Homo sapiens: one gene and its partner. The protein of the gene in region 1 purifies or fractionates together with the protein of each later gene. This does not show direct contact. Each region holds a gene or a part of one and is shown on either strand. Other genes may lie near its edges.

Evidence for each region. The genes of interacting proteins can lie anywhere in the genome.
Region 2: the proteins of OTOA (region 1) and HTATIP2 purify together in Homo sapiens (affinity purification with mass spectrometry; one large-scale study listed by BioGRID and IntAct). This does not show direct contact.

Annotation. Positions count from the first base shown.
Region 1 is NC_000016.10:21,670,468-21,673,967, forward strand, and holds part of OTOA (otoancorin isoform 1 precursor), read left to right. Parts: intron 1-3,500. UniProt on the Homo sapiens protein: May act as an adhesion molecule.
Region 2 is NC_000011.10:20,377,214-20,380,713, forward strand, and holds part of HTATIP2 (protein HTATIP2), read left to right. Parts: intron 1-3,500. UniProt on the Homo sapiens protein: Represses translation by preventing reactivation of elongation factor eEF1A. May also inhibit nuclear import by competing with nuclear import substrates for binding to a subset of nuclear transport receptors.

The DNA of each region.
Region 1 (3,500 bases):
AAACTGTCTATAATAGTACCTGCTCCTTCTTTGGCTCCTTTTTCCTACCCTGTTGTATTTTTCTCCATGGCACTCATCACTCCCTGACATAATATAGTTATTTGATTATCTATTTTCTGCCTGGTTCATTCCAACACACCAGCAGGGAGTTAGTTTTGTAAACTGCTGTATTCTCAGAGCATAGAATAATGCCTGGCTCACAGCACTACTCAACAAATATTTGAAGAATGAAAGCATGAAATAATTACACAAACATAAATATGTATTATAGCTGTGCTTGGTGCTATAAAAGAGAAGTATTGGCCTTTTCTTCTGGCTAATTGCTTTGGCCTGGTCAGAGAATTCAGGGAAGGCTTCATTGAAGACTTGAAATTTACAATGAATTGATCTTAGCCGGGCAAAGAGGAAGGGGAAGAATCCTCTGGGCCGAGGAACAGCCTGTGAGAGGGTCTTAATCTGGGGAGGATAGCACCTTGGAGGGACAGACAGATGGCCCGGGCAGGAACCTTGGGGAATGAGGGGCAAAGAGGAGGGTGATACAGCCACTGGAAAAGCTTTGGGCTTTATCTTGAGGGTAATGGGGAGAGGCGGAGGGTGACATGAGTTTATTGAGATGGTGTTTTTCAAAACAGCATCTGTTTGAAAACAGCAATCTGGTTTCTTTGCTTATTTAATAAACTTGTATACAGAGCTGACTTTGTGTCAAGCCCTGTTTGAAGTGATTCACTATTAACAACTCATTTTACCCTCATACGACACAGTGATGCTGGTACCATCATTAATCTCATTTTACAGACGAGAAAATTGGAGTGCAGAGAGATTAAGAAACTCGTCCAAGGCCGGGCTCAGTGGCTCACACCTGTAATCTCAGCACTTTGGGAGGCCAAAGTGGGTGGATCACTTGAGGTCAGGAGTTCGAGATCAGCCTGGCCAACATGGTGGGAGCCTGTCTCTACTAAAAATACAAAACTTAGCCTGGTGTGGTGGTGGGTACCTGTAATCCTAGCTACTCAGGAGGCTGAGGCAGAAGAATCGCTTGAACCTGGGAAGCAGAGGTTGCAGTGAGCCTACATTGCACCACTGCACTCCAGCCTGGGCAAGAGAGTAAGACTCCATATCAAAAAAAAAAAAAAGAAAAAAGAAAAAAGAAAAAAAAAAAGAAAGAAATATGTCCAACATTGCACAGCTAGTAAGTGGCGGAGACGTGATTCAGAACAGGTGACTGGCTCCACAGTCCATGCTTTTCCATTTCTGTTTGATACTGACTTTTGTGAGGTATAAATTTACAGGCAATACAATGCACACTAAGTGTACAGTTCAGTGAGATCTGATAAATGTATGTATCTGTGTGACAACCACCACAATCAAGATACAAAAAATGGGGGCTGGGTGCAATGGCATCCACCTGTAATCCCAGTACTTTGGGAAGCTCGAAGGGAGGATTGCTTGAAACCAGGAGTTTGAGACCAGCTTGGGCACTATAGTGAGACCCTATATCTACAAAAAAAATTTTTCCATCACTCCAAGAAGTTCCCTTGTGCCCTGTTGCAATAAACTTTTCCCATTGTACCCTAATAATGCCCCAGACCAATCCTAATTTGTTTCCTGTCACTGAAGATTATTCTAGGTAACCTAGATAACCTAGAATCTAGATATTCTAGATAACTTAGAGTTTCACAGAAATGGAATCATATGTTATGTGGTCTTTTTTGACTGGCTTCTTTTGCTCAGCATAAGCATAATGTTTCTGAGGTTCATCTGTGTTGTTGCCTATATCAGTAGTGTATTCCTTTTCCTATGCATATAATATGGGTTTTTTCCCTTTGGGTGCTTAAAAATTTATTATTTTATTTATTTAAAAAATTGACATATACGCCGGGCACGGTGGCTCACGCCAGCAATCCCAGCACTTTGGGAGGCTGAAGTGGGCTGATCACCAGAGGTCAGGAGTTCCAGACCAGCCTGACCAACATGGCGAAACCCCATCTCTACTAAAAATACAAAAATTAGCTGGGTGTGGTGGCGCATGCCTGTTATCCCAGCTACTCAGGAGGCTGAGGCAGGAGAATCGCTTGCACCTGGGAGGCGGAGGTTGCAGTGAGCCGAGATTGCGCCACTACACTCCAGCCTGGGTGACAGAGTGAGACTCCATCTCAAAAAAAAAAAAAAAAATTGACATATAATAATTGTACATATTTATGGGGTACATAAAGATGTTTTGATGTGTATAATGTATGGTGATCAGTCAGGGTAATTAGCATGTCTACCATCTCAAACATTTCTCATTTCTTTCTGTTCAGTATCTTCCTTCTAGCTATTTGAAACTATATATTATTGTTAACTATTGTCATCCTACAGTGGTACAGACTACTATAACTAAATTAAAAAACAATTGTGTGGCCAGGGATGGTGGCCCATGCCTGTATTCCTAGCACTTTGGGAGGCCGAGATGGGAGGATTGCTTGAGGCCAGGAGTTTGAGATCAGCCTGGGAAACATAGCAAGAACCCATTTCTACAAGAACTAAAAGAATTAGCTGGGCATGGTAGTGCATGCCTGTAGTCTCAGCTTCTCAGGAGGCTGAGACCAGAGGATCACTTGAACACAGGAGTTCAAGGCTGCAGTGAGCCATGATCATGCCACTGCACTGCAGGCTGGGTGACAGAGAAAGACTCTGTCTCTCAAGAAAATAAAAAAGAATTTGAAATAACTACAGATTCATAGGAAGTTGCAAAAGAAATATCCTGTGTACTCTTCACCCAGTTTCCCCCATTGGTTACATGTTATGTAACAATAGTACCATATAAAATTCAGGAAATCATGGTACAAATTCAGGGCTTATTCAGATTTCACTAGTTTTACATGCACTCCTTTGTGTGTATATTTTATATCGTTTTCTTCAATTTTGTGACATGTGTAGACTAATGTATCAGCTACCCTAATCAGGACCCAGAACTCTCCTGGTGATCACAAGCCTCTTTCATGCATCCCTTGACAGCCTTATCTCCCTCTCCCCATGGCAAATACCAATCTAGTCTGCATTTCTATAATTTTATTTCAAGAATGCTTTATAATTGGAATCATTAGTATATAACTTTCAGTGATTGGCTTTCTTCCCTCTGCATAATTCCCTTTAGGTGCATCAAAGTTGTTGCCTGTATCAATAGTTCATTCCTTTTCATTGCTGAGTAGTATTCAATGGCGTGGACATACCACACACAGTGAGTTTAACCATTCACCTACGGAATGACATTTAGATTGGTTCAATTTTTCAGCTACTATGAATAAAGATGCTATGAACATTTGTGTACAGGTTTTGTTTGTTTGTTTGTTTGTTTTTTGAGTTGGAGTCTCACACTGTCACCCAGGCTGGAATGCAGTGGCGTGATCTTGGCTCACTGCATCACTGCAAGCTCTGTCTCCTGGGTTCATGCCATTCTCCTGCCTCAGCCTCCCAAGTAGCTGGGACTACAGGCGCCCACCACCACGCCTAGCTAATTT
Region 2 (3,500 bases), on another chromosome or scaffold:
CTGGGACTAGAGGCATGAGCCACCATGCCTGGCTAATTTTTGTATTTTTGGTAGAGATGGGGTTTTGCCATGTTGCCCAGGCTGGTCTCAAACTCCTGAGTTCAAATGATCAGCCCATCTCAGCCTCCCAAAGTGCTGGGATTACAGGTGTGAGCCACTGCGTCTGGCCTCAACTTTCTTAAAAGTCTTAACGTTTTATCTTTTAAAAATTTATGCACATTTTGCTATTCTTAGTACTATACATATCCCTGTTTATTTTAATTTAAAAGGTTTCTATTAACTTACCTTTCAGTTAAATTGATGCTGTTGGAAGATAGGCATGGCTTTGTCTTTGTGTGCCTCCCTTTGCACCCCAGGTGCCCACAGTTTAAGCAGCAGAGCCACAGAGGTCATTCAGCCATAGACTTTTCCTATGTGAAGTCCTTTTACAGAAGTTCATCTCCTTTCTGCTTAAATATCTCCAGCACTACAGAGATTACTATCTCGTTAGCCAACTTTTTCTATTTTGGGTCAGATCTACTTGTCCAAAAGTCTTTACCTTGAAGTGAAATTTATTGTTATGTAAATACAAATTGTTATCAGTTCTGCCTTTTAAAATAACAAAAATACGTCCAGTCTTTCTTTTGCATTGTAGTTTTTAAGACATTTGGAGATTATGACCCCCTTAATTGTATGTTTCCCAGGCATAACACCTTTAAATCCTTGCACCATTCTTTATGGGTTCCTGTGTCTAGCTCCTTCATGACTGCATCACTTTGCTAAGGGTGAACTTTGCAGTGATATTATACTGGAACTGCACTGGGAGTACTATTCATGCTCCGAACACTATGTTTTTTTAAAAAAATAGGATATAAGATTGTTACTATTTTACCAAACATCCTTATTATGTTGTTGGCTCATGATCAGCCTGTAATATTAAAAATTTCCAGATTTTTTTCACATGGCTTATAGCTGAGCCATATCTCACCTATCCTAAAATAGTATTTTGAACCAGATGAAGATCAGTGAGCCACCAATGAAATTACATGAAGAATGGAAAAGTTTCCACTTAATTGTCAGAGTTTAGAACAATTCTTAAAAGGAAAAAATCTGTTTTCCTTTTTTTTTAGAGTCAAAGTCTTGCTCTGTCACCCAGGTTGAAGTGCAGTGGTGCGGTCACAGCTCACTACAACCTCAGATTCCTGGGCTCAAACAATCTCCAGCCTCAACCTCCTGAGCAGCTGGGACTACAGGCATGAGGGATCAGGCCCAACTTGTTTTTTAAAACACTGACACATGTGGGTTCTGAGAAAGGTTATCAAATAGGATTTTTGCTCTCATTAGCAAGATCAACATTTATACCTTTTAGGAAAGAAAATATACATAAGATATTTCCTCATTGTTAAAGATAAAGGCGTTACTACTGACTCACTGGGTTATAATAATGATTTAACCAGATTTTTAAAAAAATAGCTAACACTAAATGAGCCAGGCAGTATTCTGAGGGCTTTTATGTGCATTTGCGTGGAAACAGGTACTGTGATATTAAGACCACCAGCTGTTGGCTGGGCACGGTGGCTCACGCCTGTAATTCTAGCACTTTGGGAGGCCGAGGTGGGAAGATCACTTGAGGCTGGGAGTTTGAAACCAGCCTGGGAAACGTGGCAAAACCCTGTCTGTACTAAAAATACAAAAATTAACTGGCACAGTGGTGTATGCCTGTAATCCCAGCTACTCGGGAGGCTGAGGCAGGAGAATTGCATGAACCCGGGAAGCAGAGGCTGCAGTGAGCCAAGATCACATCACTGCACTCCAGCTTGGGGACAGAGTGAGACTCTGTCTCAAAAACAAAACAAAACAAAACAAACAACAACAACAACAACAACAACAAAAACACCAGCTGTTAAGCGGCAAAGCTAGAGCTTGAACCCAGGCTGATTCCAAGGCCTATGCCACTAGCTATTAAGTAATGAATAGCCTTTGTCACTAATACATGCAAAAGGGACCCAGCAGAGATTGGACCGTGACAGAGCCTCAGCAAATATTAAGGCCAATACAACGGAAAGACACTTCTGATTTCACTGCAATTGGCCTGCATTACCTGCAGCCTGGGATTATGAATTAGATTAATAAAGGACAGAAATGACAACCAAATGATCCAACCCAGAATGACGCTGAACAATATATAATTGCTTTTACAATTTGGAAAGATTATCTTTCCAAAATAATCCTTCAACTACTGTGTGTAACATTCCTAGTATTTATTGCCTATTTTCTCAGCCTCCATGTGTGTATGAACTCCCCCGCCCCACCCAATTTTAGAAACTCCTTTATTGTTTAGGAACATTTATTCTACTCAATGAAGTTTCAATTGCATTCATTCATGGTGGGCCAGCTCTGGGGGCTTGGATCAATCATGTGCTTTATGGGCATTCTGCTGGTGCCGTGGGGAGACGTGTCAGGATGTGGAGCCCAGAGTACTGGATGGGCCTCATGTCCTCTGTTCTCAGGGTTTATAAGCTTTGGTTTCCTCATCTATTCAGGGTGAAGGTATACTTTCCAGACATGTGACATTTTATTATTGGGTATCATCCTTGACCTCAAGGAGTTTATAATCTGCTTGTATTGAGGGATCCTCAAAGACACCCCCAAGTTTGGTAATTCACTAGAAGGTTTCATAGGACTCAGCATATAGTCATACTCACAGCTACAACTTATCGCATTGAAAGGATATAGAGCAAAATCAGCAAAGGGAAAAGGTGTGTCGGGTGAAGTCTGGAGGAAAGTAGGTACAAGCTTCCAAGAGGCCTCTCCCCATAGAGCTTGCACAGGATGTGCTTAATGTCTCCAGCGATGAACGTTTTCTGCCAGAGAAACTCATCTGAGCCTAGGAATGCAGGGTTTTTATGGGAGCCAGTTACATAGGCACATTGGCCTAGCCAAATTGCAGCCCTCCAGAAGAAAGGCAAGTTTTCAGCATAAACCACATTGTTTGTACAGACAGTTTAGGCATAGTACATGACCCTTATCAGATAGGGAATGGTGGGAACACACCGAAAATCCAAGGTTGCAAGCACAAGCCAGGGGCCAAACTTGTAACAGGCCTTTCTAAGGATAGCAGTCTCAGCCTGCTATGGTATCTCTTTTATGCACACTGCTAATAGAGACAAAACAAATCTTTTAAAAAGCTAAGAAATGGGCTGGGCGCGGTGGCTCACGCCTGTAATCCCAGCGCTTTGGGAGGCCGAGGCGGGCGGATCACGAGGTCAGGAGATTGAGACCATCCTGGCTAACACGGTGAAACCCCGTCTCTACTAAAAATACAAAAAATTAGCCGGGCGTGATGGCAGGTGCCTGTAGTCCCAGCTGCTCGGGAGGCTGAGGCAGGAGAACGGCATGAACCCGGGAGGCGGAGCTTGCAGTGAGCTGAGATTGCGCCACTGCACTCCAGCCTGGGCGACAGAGTGAGACTCCATCTCAAAAAAAAAAAAAAAAAAAAGCTAAGAAATGTGTGTACACAT